Homo sapiens: one gene and its partners. The protein of the gene in region 2 interacts with the protein of the main gene of each other region in a pairwise test. Each region holds a gene or a part of one and is shown on either strand. Other genes may lie near its edges. The genes, in order: ITSN1, FNBP4, HSCB and ITSN2.

Region 1 (3,598 bases), on a different chromosome or scaffold from region 2:
GGGCTTAGTGACTCGTGCCTATATTCCCAGCTTTTCTAGAGGCTGAGGTGGGAGGATCTGGTTCGCTTGAGCCCAGGAGATGGAGGCTGCAGTGAGCCATGATTGCCCTACTGCATTCTAGCCTGGGCGACAGAGAGAGCGAGCCTGTGTCCAAAAAGTAAGTAAGTAAATAAATACATAAAAATAAATACGGGTTTCTGTCACCTCGCTTCAGAATCAGACAGCTAGAGGTGGGGCCCTGGAATTGGTGTTGTTAATGCATTCTCCAGGAATTTCTCCTGCATAGGGAAGTTGGAAACCACTGGCTTCCTTCTCTCTGAGCATCTCCTGAGACTAGCTCCTGAAGTGGATAGAAAGTTTTTCAAGTAGCAGATTAAGTTTTATCCCTTAGGCTGCTAATAAAAAACAATTGACTGTGATTGCGTAATTTTACCTGTCGTACACCTTTCAGAAGGCAGAGGCTTTGGTTCACCCCTCTACCTCCAGGGCCTAAAACAGTGCCTGGAGGAACTCAATTAAACATTTGTTGAGTGAATACGTGAATTACATTGCAGCGAGGCCAATCTTTTAAAAGTTACTTGTCAAATTAATCTATCAGTTAGTGGCATATTAAAGCCCAGCATATTACAAAAAAATTTTTTTTAGTAGTCACTGATTTTATAAATTAGGAGCCACAAGCACTATACCCCAGTGACTTCTGTAAGTTTGGTTAGTTTAGAAAGGAGAGAGCCTTTCCCAGGCGTAGTGTGCTCAAGGTGATTAGCCAGAAAGAAGATTCAGAACAAAGCATTTGCTTAGAGAGTCAAAATGTAAATTTAAGTCACAGTGTAGTGGTAAATCATATATCAAACTTATATTTGGTATATTGTCTTATATCAAAATATCATTTTATAAACCATAAGTCCAACATACTGCTATAAAAATTGGTTTCTAGCAAATAGAGAAAATTGTTATGTTTTCCAATTTCACTTTTCATACTAATAAAATTTGACCTTTACACCTTCTTTTCAAGAGTTCACCACAGGGCACCATAGATATTATGTAGTTAAGAGCTCAAACTTTGGAGAATATTGTGTTTGACCACACATAGTCAGGGAGTTTGATCTAACCTCTCAATGCCTCATTTCTCAGCTGAACATGGAAATAGTAATAATAAAGTTCACATACTTCTAAGTGCTTACCTAAGTTTTTGAGACACATCCACTTAATAAATGGTAGTTACAGTGATGATAAAGAATTGGGGTGTATAAAAATACCTAAAACTCAAAAGCTAACCCATTTAATTATTGTACTACTGGACTTTTATGATAGTAAGTAGAAATCTGTTGCTTAAAAAAGAAGTTTCTTTGGTGGTGTGCGTCTATAGTCCCAGCTACTTCGGAGGCTGAGGTGGGAGAATCACTTGAACCCAGGAGATCAAGGCTGCAGTGAGCTATGATTGTGCCACTGCACTCTAGCCTGGGTGACAGAGCAAGGCCCTGTCTCAAAAAAAAAAGAAAAAAAAAAGTTTATTGCTAACTCCTTGGTACTATGTATAATTTTTTTAATTGAATGACTAGACTAAACATTGAAAGTATTTAATAAGCTATCAAATATGTATTAATATAAGTTTTGAAAATAAATACTAAATCTCCTGATCTCTTTTAGGTTAAAATATAGTTTATGATGAGCAACTAATATTCTTTGTATTTAAAAAGATAATTGTTTTATGGTAGAAAAATTGAAATACAGAAAAGTATAAAGTAGAAAACTATGAAATACCCGTAAGTCTACTACCTGCATACATATTTCTTCAAATCCTTTTGTGTGTGTGCATATGGCTATTCATATACAATTTCTGGTAACAAAAATGGGATCTTGCTATACATATGGTTGTAACCTGCTTTTTTTTTGCTTAACATCTTGTCATGAGTGTCTTTTCCTATATATATATTGCATTATAACAATTTTAGTAACCAAATAATATTCCGTTTTATGGATCTATGGTAGTTTTTTTTTTAATTTTTATTTTTTCAGACGGAGTCTCAGTCTGTTACCCAGGCTGGTGTATAGTGGCTCAATCTTGGCTCACTGCAACCTACGCTTCCCAGGTTCAAATGAATCTCTTGCCTTAGCCTCCTGATTAACTGGGATTACACATGCCTGCCACCATGCCTGGCTAATGTTTGTATTTTTAGTGGAGATGGGGTTTCGTCATGTTGGCCAGGCTGGTCTCATGCTCCTAACCTCAGGTGATCCACCTGCCTCAGCCTCCCAAAGTGCTGGGATCACAGGCGTGAGCCACCACACCCAGTCATGGATCTCTGGTGGTTTAGCCAATTTATTTTTATTAGACATTAGTTTGTTTATTTTTCCTCCACGGTTACTTATAACCCTGCAGTGACTGTCCTTCTACATATGTCTCTGAATGTACTTGTGAGATTATTTTCATTAGGATAAATTTCTACAAATGGAATTTGCAGGATCAAAGCCTATGCTAAATTTTAGGATTTTTTAAATCCGTATTTCCAATTTGTCATTTAGAAAGATTGTATCATTTTATACTCTTACCATGGTATATCAGACTTCCAGTCTCCCAGCCCCTTGTACCTTCCCCCATTTTATGGAATGACTTAACCAGTGACAAACCTAGTGAATTTTTGCTTTTAGGAAGAAGAATGGACTGTTAGTATAATGTGTTTAGTAGTGTGATATGGAAACTCAGAAATCTTGTGCATGGGTAATAGTGATAGCTAATGTCGATTAAGTTCTTTTGCAGCATCTTATATACATTAACTCACTTCACAAAAAACTCTCATCTTACAGATGCCTTGGAAACTAGGGTACCAGCAATTAGAGAGCCAGCAAGTGTCTGAGCAGATTTTTACTGTAGAGTCCAAAACTCTTAGCCTGTTTCCTAGACATGTTTTATAGGCATTTGGGTACTTTTTATGTTCTCGATTGCTGTTGTGGAGTAACTAAGAGGTTCTCTGACATGTACTAATATATAAACTGGGTGGGGCACAAATTTGAATCCCTTTCACTGAAGAGTTGGTCACATAAGTTAGCTCAGAAATTAGCTTTGGGACCGGTGCTGTGGGTCACTCCTGTAATCCCAATACTTGAGAGGCCAAGGTGGGAGCATTACTTGAGCCCAGGAGTTCCAGACTGGCCAGGGCAACATAGCAAGACCCTACAAAAAATTTTTTAAAAAGTAGCCCAGTGAGGTGATGCCCACCTGTAGTCCTAGCTACTAGGGAGGCTGAGGTGGGAGGACTGTTTGTACCCAGAAGTTGGAGGCTGCAGATGCCACAGCACTCCAGACTGGGCAACATAGTGAGATCTTGTCAAAAAAGAAAGGGGAGGGCAGGGCAAGAGAGAGAGAAAAGAAAGGAGAGAAAGAGAAAGAGAAGGAAGGAGAAAGAAAGAGGAGAGAGAGAAAAATTAGCCTCATCAACTGTCCAGCATTCATCCTTAAAGTAGTCTTGTTATCCTTTACTCTGTAGTGGTTTTCCTAAAGTACCCCTGCATGAAAAACAGGATTAGAGTGCTAGAGAAGACTAGTGAAATTTGAAAAGGCAGTTCACTTGTGATGTGGACTTGTCTTAGAAACGCAAGA
Region 2 (3,272 bases):
TGCTTCTCTTAAAAAGCATAGGGATAAGCTATTAAAGAGGCTGAGGCGGGAGAGTCGCTTGAACCTGGGAGGCTGAGGTTGCAGTGAGCTGAGATCGCACCACTGCATTCCAGCCTGGGTGACAAAAGTGAAACTTTGTCTTAAAAAAAAAAAAGAAAAACGGGGATAAAAATTGGTCTTATCAATATCTAATATATTTGTCAGATACTCTCCCTAGGGGCTTAGGATTTAGCAGTACATCAAACAGACAAAAAAAAAAAAAACCCTCTGCTTTTGTAGAACCTTTCTTCTGGCAGGGGGTGGCTTGGGAGTAGATAAGGGAAAAATAAATCTATGAGAAATATTTTTTTTTCCTTTTTTTTTTTTTTTTTTTTTTTTTTTTTTTTTTTTTTTTTTTTTTGAGTCAGAGACATCCGCCACCACCCCCAGCTAATATGGCAGTTTGCTTTGTTGGTCTTTCCAGCTTTATTTTTTAGCTTTTTTTTTTTTTTTAATCATTTGATAGGAATGCTGCATCTATTTAAAATTTGAAAATGGGAACGCTGTAATTCTGAGGAGACGAGATAAAGGCAATATTTTGAATTGCATAGGGTAGGGAGGTTAAAGGAAATTTATATGACCTGATTTTATAAAATACCACATTTACAAATACCACCTTTTGAAACGGAGTCTCAAGAAAAGGGGCAAAAAATCTGTATGTTTATTATAGACGATTTAGACAATGAAGGTAAGCGAAAAGAAAAAATATTATATCATTATACCTTCTCTTAGAACTAACTGTATCATTGATTTTTTTTGGCAGGGGGAGGGGAGACAGAGTCTCTGTCACCCAGGCTGGTGTGCAGTGGCATGCTCTCAGCTCACTGCAACCTCTGCCTCCCAGTTCAAGCACTTCTCATGCCTCAGTCTCCTGAGTAGCTGGGGCGACAGGCATGTGCACCACCATGCCAGGCTAATTTTTGTATTTTTTATATTTTTAGTAGAGGTGGGTTTTTGTCATGTTGGCCAGGCTGGTCTCAAACTCCTGGCCTCAAGTGATCCACCCACCTTGGCCTCCCAAAGTGCTGAGATTACAGGTGTGACCCACCATGCCTCGCCCCATTGATGTTTTATTTTATTTATTTATTTATTTTTATTTATTTATTTATTTATTTTTGAGATGGAGTCTTGCTCTGTCGCCCAGGCTGAAGTGCAGAGTAGCTGGGACTACAGGCGCCCACCACCACGCCAGGCTTATGTTTTGTATTTTTAGTAGAGACGGGGTTTCACCGTGTTAGCTAGGATGGTCTCGATCACCTGACCTCGTGATCCTCCCGCCTCGGCCTCCCAAAGTGATTACAGGCATGAGCCATCGTGCCCAGCCGATATTTTTAAAAATCTGTTTGCTTTTTTTCATATTTAATTATGGCTATTTATTTATTTGAGACAGAGTCTCACTGTGTTGCCCAGGCTGCAGTGCAATGGTGCAATCTTGGCTCACTGCAAACTCTGACTCCCGGGTTGAAGCGATTCTCCTGCCTCAGCCTCCCAAGCAGCTGGGACTACAGTCGCCCACCGCCGCCGCCACCGCCCCCGGCTAATATGGCAGTTTGCTTTGTTGCTCTTTCCAGCTTTATTTTTTAGCTTTTTTTTTTTTTTTTTAAATCACTTGGGAGGAACACTGCATCTATTTAAAATTTGAAAACGGGAACACTGTAATTCTGAGACGCGATAAAGGCAATATTTTGAATTACATAGGATAGGGAGGTTAAAGGAAGTTTATATGACATAATTTTATAAAATACCGCATTTACAAAGCTTTATAGATTTTATTTATTTATTTATTTATTTATTTATTTTTTTGAGACGGAGTCTCCCTCTGTAGCCCAGGCTGGAGTGCAGTGGTGATCTCGGCTCACTGCAAGATCCGCCTCCCAGGTTCATGCCATTCTCCTATCTCAACCTTCCGAGTAGCTGAGACTACAGGCGCCCGCCACCACGTCTGGCTAATTTTTTGTATTTTTAGTAGAGACAGGGTTTCACCATGTTAGCCAGGATGGTCTCGATCTCCTGACCTTGTGATCCGCCCGCCTCAGCCTCCCAAAGTGCTGGGATTACAGGCTTGAGCCACCGCGCCTGGCCTGCTTTATAGATTTTTAACCAAGCCTTTTTGTTTATAATTGGTAAGAAATTTATGGCAAGAACTTAGAATGGTATTTACTTTCTTTTTTAAAGTGTGCATATTCTTTAGAACTGGGAAAAGGATCCTGACCTCCATTGTAGAGGACGCTTATCCTTATTTTATGTTTTCTATTCCTTTTGACCTTTAACCTTTGTTACAGGCAAAGAAGAGTAAGACCAAAATGCCATCTTTGGTAAAAAAGTGGCAGAGTATCCAGCGTGAGTTAGATGAAGAGGACAATTCTAGTTCCAGTGAAGAGGATCGGGAATCAACTGCACAGAAGCGAATTGAAGAGTGGAAACAGCAGCAGCTGGTTAGGTAAAAGAAAAGGAAACACAGATGAGATGGGGTTTTGGAGTAGGTTGAGACCTACTATGAGATGGAGTAGGTTGTGGTTGTTATAGATGCATTAGAATAGACATATTCTTAAAATCACAGCTTGTAAATTTATCTAAAGGTTTCTAATTTATAAACATGTTTAATTCCTTATAGAAATTATGGGCTAGCCTTTTTTCAAAATCAGAAACAACAGAGTTGTAATACTTTGTCCAGTTGATTGTTGGTCTTAGGCAAAGGCCTGTCTTAACTCTCAGTACATCATTTACTATCTAGATCCAGTGGACCCTTTTATACACACACACACACACACACACACACACACACACACACATACACACATAACATATTAACTTATTTTACAAATAATTTATAGAATTAGACCCTTTTATACACACACACATTATTGTACAAATGATTTACAGAATTAGAATAAAGTTTTTCCCCTGTCCCTATATTTCAGTCAAGCAGGGTAGAATACAGAGCTGCCTTCTCAATTGCACTTATTCTAGAACAGAAGTTAATGAGAGAGCACACCACACTAGGAACTAAATGAACCTCTTCTAGGTAAGAAAATCCTTCACTACCTTGCTTGACTAGAATAAAAGGATAGGGAGAACTGGCTTCAAGTAATTGCACCTCAGCCTCCCAGAGTGTTGGGAATACAAGTGTGAGCCACCACACTCAGGTCAGAAATATTTTTTATGATGAAAGCACATGTTGGGCTGGGCACGGTGGCTCACGCCTGTAATCCCAGCACTTTGGGAGGCCAAGG
Region 3 (2,986 bases), on a different chromosome or scaffold from region 2:
ACCTCATGATCCGCCCACCTCGGCCTCCCAAAGTGCTGGGATTACAGGCGTGAGCCACCGCGCCTGGCCCTAAAATTTTTTGAATACAAAAAAGATGTTAAATAGGCCGGGCGCGGTGGCTCACGCCTGTAATCCCAGCACTTTGGGAGGCCGAGGCGGGCGGATCACGAGGTCAGGAGATGGAGACCATCCTGGCTAACACGGTGAAACCCCGTCTCTACTAAAAATACAAAAAATTAGCCGGGCAAGGTGGCGGGCACCTGTAGTCCCAGCTACTCAGGAGGCTGAGGCAGGAGAATGGCGTGAACCGGGGAGGCAGAGTTTGCAGTGAGCCAAGATTGCGCCACTGCACTCCGGCCTGGGTGACAGAGCAAGACTCCATCTCAAAAAAATAAAATGTTAAATAAATTAAATTGAGAAATGAAATACGACCAAGGCCTTCCAAGTCCCTGGTTGACATTTTGCCATTACATCTCCCTTCCACAGTAACCACTCCTGAATTTTGTGTTACTCATTCCCTTGCTTTTCTTGATAGTTTTAACCATATATGTACATAATAGTATATTATTTAGTCTCACATATTTTTCTTTATATAAATAATACATATCCTTCTGTGACTTTTTTGCTTAATATTTTATTTTTGGAGTCATCTGGAATGATGCAAATGGTTATAACATATCTTCATTTTAGCACTCTTCACATTGTGTTTTACTTATCTAAGTCAGGTTTTCTCAACCTTGGCACTACGGATATTGTAAGCCAGATAATTCTTCGTTTGGGGGAGCTGTCCTGAGTACTATAAGATGATTAGCAGCATCCCTGGCCTGTACCCACCAGATGTCAGTACTACCTCCCAGCTGTGACAACCAAAAATATCTCCAGACATTGCCAGATGTCCCCATGGGGGCAAAATCATCCCCAGTTGAAAATCACTGGTCTGGCCAGGCATGGTGGCTCACACCTATAATCCCAGCACTTTGGGAGTCCAAGGCAGGCGGATCACTTGAGATCAGGAGTTTGAGAGCAGCCATGGCCAACATGGTGAAACCCTGCCTCTACTAAAAATGCAAAAATTGGCCAGGCATGGTGGCGCACACCCTGTAGTACCAGCTACTCTGGAGACTGAGGCATGAGTATTGGTTGAACCCGGGAGGTGGAGGTTGCAGTGAGCTGAGATCACGCCACTGTACTCCAGCCTGGGCAACAGAGTGAGGCTCCATCTCACAAAAAAAAAAAAAAAGGAAAATCACCGGTCTAAAGGTGTCTTTCTTGGGAACTATAAGCCCCCGGAGGGTACCTCTGTGCCTCAGCACCTGAACTGTAAGCCCCCTGAAGGCAGCTCTATGCCTCAGCACCTGGCATAGAGGAAGCATTCAGTGCTTTCATATCCTCAGTATACCACCACATGTTAGGGAGAAATTTTTAAAACACAACCACCCACCCTTTTTTTTTTTTTTTTAAAGAGACAGGGTCTCACCCTGTCGCCCAGGTTGAAGTACAGTGGCACAGTCATAGCTCAGTGCAACCTCAAACTCCTGGGCTCAAGGGATCCTCCCACCTCAGCCTCCCGAGTGGCCAGGACTACAGGCATGTGCCACCATGCCTGGCTAATTTTTTATTTTATTTTTTATTTTTTATTTTTTATTTTTGGTAAAGACAGGGTCTTGCTTTGTTGCCCAGGCTGGTCTTCAATTCCTGGGCTCAAGCCATCCTCCCGCCTCAGCCTCCCAAAATGCTGGGATAGCAGGTATGAGCTCCTGCATCTAGCTTCCACCACCCATTTATTACTTGGGACTGTCCTGAAGAGAATCAACTTCTCTAATTTATGTGAATCCTGTACACATGCTCTTACACAACTCTCGCCCCATTTGGTTTATCCCTGTGTCTCCTTAACAATCCAGATGTTCTCCCTCTTCGTTGCTCAGTCTTACTGAGGAATTGATGAGCCCTCCGGACCCCAGGGCTCCACTTATATATCGCTGCCCTAGTCATCAGAGTTGGTTTTATTCTTGCTTGAAATGAAGCCTGACTTCAGTGTCTCTGTCTATTTCAGATGACTTTGAAGAAGCCAAGGAAATTTTGACAAAGATGAGATACTTTTCAAATATAGAAGAAAAGATCAAGTTAAAGAAGATTCCCCTTTAATTGTGGATAGTTTAAAGTTTAAAAAATAAAGTTCTTGCTGGGCACAGTGGCTCACACCTGTAATCCCAGCACTTTGGGAGGCTGAGGTGGGTGGATGACAAGGTCAGGAGTTCAAGACCAGCTTGGCCAACATAGTGAAACCCCGTCTCTGCTGAAAATACAAAAATTAGCCGGGCATGGTGGCGCGTGCCTGTAATCCCAGCTACTTGGTAGGCCGAGGCAGGAGAATCGCTTAAACCCGTGAGGTGGAGGTTGCAGTGAGCAGAGATCACGCAACTGCACTCCAGCTTGGGCAACAGAGTGAGACTTAATCTTGAAAAATAAATAAATGAAAAATAAAATTCTTGTATATTTCTTTTCTGGCTTCTGGTAATTGGGAATAGATAAGCCTTTACCGTTTATATCATCTTAATTAAGCCTATGGCTCAAGCATTAGTGGATGGCAAAGTTTGTCATGTGGGAAGAAACACAGCCTAGTCAGAGCTTGGGTGGTCAGTTCTTCATCTGATACTTGATACAACATGACCCCAGTGTAGGCTAATGGTTGAAGAGGTGGAGATGGGGCCAATTTGAGGCCCTACAAAGAGGAATCCAAAAACTTCTCTGCAAAGGGCCTGGTAGTGAATATTTTCAACTTTGTGGACTATATCAAGGGTCCCCAACCTGTTAGGAACTGGACCCCACAGCAGGAGGTGAGTGGCAAGTGAGCGAGCAAGCAAGCATTACCGCCTGAGCTCCGTTTCCTGTCAGATCCGCTATGGCCTTAGATTCTCAAAGGAACATGAACCCTATTGTGAACTGCACATGTGAGGGTTCTAAGTTGCATGCTCCTTGTGAGAAT
Region 4 (3,598 bases), on a different chromosome or scaffold from region 2:
TAAATTCACTGTCACAGGTAGGGGATCCATGTGTTCTGGTTTTCTAGGGACAGTTCTGATTTATGCCTTTTGTCCTGGCATCTGGTCCAGTTAGTGTCTCCTTTTACAACTCCTAGTTGCGTGATGAATTATATGGTCTCCCTAGGTATAGCCAATCCCAAATACTATTCTTAGTTTCCTCTCTCTCTATATATATGTGAGTAATACAGAAAAAATTTTGAGCAGTTTTAAACTCACTTGAAATGGTTCGATTTGGGAGATAATTTAAAATTTTATGTAAGTTGAATTTTTTTAAAGGTTAATTAGCCAGCTAAATTTAGGGCCAAAAGTTGCAGACTTTGGGCTAATAAGTTCACGTATTCATCAGCGATAACCGGTTGGTATGTTTTCTGTTAATTTTGATCAGGCAATTTCTTATAATTATATGTGAGAAGCACTCATTTTGAATGGAACATTCAATTAGGTATGTCTATGTATCTGAAACATGTTCCTTCACTACAGATCTTAGAATATAGAATTCTAGAGCTGGTTATAGGGGTGTGTGCCTGTAGTTCTGGCTGCTTGGGAGGCTATGGGTAGGATTGCTTGAGTCCAGGAGTTTGAGGTTGTACTGTGCTATGATCGCACCTGTGAATAGCCACTTCATTCTAGTCGGGGCAACATAGTGAGACCCCCATCTCAAACAAACAACAGACTCCACAAAATTATTTCACTATTTTAGTGAATTCTAAAGATAAATACTAAATCATTGTGTGACCATATTTATAAGTATTCTGCAGTTAATAAATGAATAAAAGTCATCACTTTGTTCCTTTTAAGAACTCGTCCTTGAATTCATAGGAATGTTACTTACAAGAAAAGTAAAATATGTGACACACTTTCTTGCAAATAATGCATATGCATAAATGGATCTCATAAAGTATCTACTACTTAGAACCTTTTTGTTTGGGGGGAGTATGTGAGAGAGAGAGAGAAGAAGAATGTGTGTGTGTGTGTGTGTGTGTGTATTAGTCAAGTAACTTAGTAGCACTGTATTATCCTTTCACAAAAACCTCATTTGATCTGGTAATGTATTCTTTCCTTGAGGAGACTCATATTCAATTGGAAAAGGCTGCTTAGTTTTATTCATGATGAGAGAGGAGAATATTTAACTCTTTGCTAGGTGTTTTCTTAGTTCATACAGATCAGAGTATTAGTATTAAGAGCAGCAGTTTACCTCCCTCACTGCTGGGTCAAAGTAGTGAGTTTTTTAAGGATAATTCATCTGTGTGTTTTGGTAAACATAGAGTCTGCCCACTGTACTGTAAACTTGTTTTTTGCATGTGTTTTATAATTGATTTTCTAGCACTGGAAAAAATGTTTTCTTTTGACTTTAGGAATGGGAAGCATGCCCAATCTGTCCATTCCTCAGCCATTGCCTCCAGCTGCACCTATAACATCATTGTCTTCTGCGACTTCAGGGACCAACCTTCCTCCCTTAATGATGCCCACTCCCCTAGTGCCTTCTGTTAGCACATCATCATTACCAAATGGAACCGCCAGTCTCATTCAGCCTTTACCCATTCCTTATTCTTCTTCAAGTGAGTACTTTGTTTCTAAAGAGTCATTATTTCATGTAAAGAAAGAAACTATTTGTGTTTGAACAGATACAAATTTCTTTCATACTTTTCCTTCTTTTTCTTTTTTAGCATTGCCTCATGGGTCATCTTATAGTCTGATGATGGGAGGATTTGGAGGTGCTAGTATACAGAAAGCGCAGTCTCTGATTGATTTAGGATCTAGTAGGTATGAATAGCTAACTCTGACAACTTTTTATGCTTTCAGTAAGAAGTCTTTATTTAACAAATGATTTTTTTAAAGCTTTGAGCTTACCTAAGTTTTACTTTATAATGGCCAAGTACAAATACTTAAGGTAAATTTACTACTTACAACTCACATAAAATAAATTTTTTATTTTTAGAATTATTAAGTGTCTGTGGCATTTTACTTTTGAAAAAATAATTCATGTAAACTAAAAATATTCTATATTTTAATTTTTTCTTTGCCTAAAGCTGTGTACTTTTCCTTTAAAAAATGTGTATATTTCCCAAGATGTCTCATACTCATTGTACATTGTTAATTTCTTTCTTGAGCAGATTCTACTAATTGGATATCTTTTAAATTTTACAAAGCACAAATGCATCAGTATTCATTACATTAATCACCCTTCATATAAATCACTATTATACTCTTCAGGGTAGTGTACGGAGAGTGTTAGATTTGACCCAGAAGAACAACATTCATATCCTAGCTTGAACACTCACTGATTCTGTGGCCTTGTTTTTTCTTAACATCGCTGAGCCATAGTTTACCCATCTAAAAGATGGGGACTGTAGTATTTTTTAAGTTTGTTGGGAGGATTAGAAATATTTGTAAAGGCCTTAGTACAATATAAGGTCTGGCACAGAGCAGGTTCTTTATATGCGGTAGTCTCATGGAGTTCTATACTTCTTATGGTCTTTGCTTTACTAAGAATAGTGATAATTGCTTAAAATTTAAAAAAATGTAAAATGCAAAAGCAGTCACCATTGGCCAGGCACAGTGGCTCACGCCTGTAATCCCAGCACTTTGGGAGGCTGAGGTGGGCGGATTGCCTGAGCTCAGGAGTTCGAGACCAGCCTGGGGCAACATGGTGAAACCCTGTCTCTACTAAAAATGCGCACAAAAAAATTAGCCGGGCGTGGTGGCATGTGACTGTAGTCCCAGCTACTTGAGAGGCTGAGGCAGGAGAATTGCTTGAACCCGGGAGGTGGAGGTTGCAGTGATCCAGGATTGTGCCACTGCACTCCAGGCTGGCAACAGAGCGAGACTCTGTCTCCTCCCCAGAAAAAGAGAAAAGGCAGTCACCATTATAGTATGTAACAGCGATCCTCAACCTTTTTGGTACCAGGGACTGGTTTCATAGAAGACAGTTTTTTCACAGACTTGAAGCAATGGTTTTAGGATGAAACTGTTACATCTCAGATCATCAGGCATTAGATTCTCAAAGGGAGCATCCAACCTAGGTCCCTCACATGTGCCATTCACAATAGGGTTTGCACTCTTATGAGAATCTAATGCCACTGCTCACTGGACAGGAGCTGGAGCTCAGGTAGTAGTGCTCACTCACCTGCCACTCACCGAGCCCCGCTGTCCAGCCCGGTTCCTAACAGGTCGGTGGCCCGGGGGTTCAGGACCCCTGGTATATAAGATTCTTAATGCCTTGGTCTTATAAAATTTAATTAAATATATTTTATTTAGTAACATAAAAATTTTAAATAAATTTTTTTATAGCTCAACTTCCTCGACTGCTTCACTCTCAGGGAACTCACCCAAGACTGGGACCTCAGAGTGGGCAGTTCCTCAGCCTACAAGATTAAAATATCGGCAAAAATTTAATACTCTTGACAAAAGTATGAGTGGATATCTCTCAGGTAAGCAGCATACAGTGCTGAAGAGCATGAAAAAGGGTCTTTTATGTGGACTTCCACTGAAGAACTGTCATTTGAATTTGTATTGTGTAGCTCATCTGACATTTTAACATCCAAAAAATTTAGCAGGCATTTGATAAATACAAATA

The links.
Region 1: the proteins of FNBP4 (region 2) and ITSN1 interact in a two-hybrid assay, tested with the Homo sapiens proteins (one large-scale study listed by BioGRID).
Region 3: the proteins of FNBP4 (region 2) and HSCB interact in a two-hybrid assay, tested with the Homo sapiens proteins (one large-scale study listed by IntAct).
Region 4: the proteins of FNBP4 (region 2) and ITSN2 interact in a two-hybrid assay, tested with the Homo sapiens proteins (one large-scale study listed by BioGRID).

What each region holds. Positions count from the first base shown.
Region 1 is NC_000021.9:33,645,501-33,649,098, forward strand, and holds part of ITSN1 (intersectin-1), read left to right. Parts: intron 1-3,598. UniProt on the Homo sapiens protein: Adapter protein that provides a link between the endocytic membrane traffic and the actin assembly machinery. Acts as a guanine nucleotide exchange factor (GEF) for CDC42, and thereby stimulates actin nucleation mediated by WASL and the ARP2/3 complex.
Region 2 is NC_000011.10:47,719,136-47,722,407, reverse strand, and holds part of FNBP4 (formin-binding protein 4), read left to right. Parts: intron 1-2,321; coding exon 2,322-2,479; intron 2,480-3,272.
Region 3 is NC_000022.11:28,755,025-28,758,010, forward strand, and holds the end of HSCB (iron-sulfur cluster co-chaperone protein HscB isoform 1 precursor), read left to right. Parts: intron 1-2,053; coding exon 2,054-2,145; 3' UTR 2,146-2,486; downstream 2,487-2,986.
Region 4 is NC_000002.12:24,308,471-24,312,068, reverse strand, and holds part of ITSN2 (intersectin-2), read left to right. Parts: intron 1-1,376; coding exon 1,377-1,580; intron 1,581-1,688; coding exon 1,689-1,785; intron 1,786-3,312; coding exon 3,313-3,452; intron 3,453-3,598.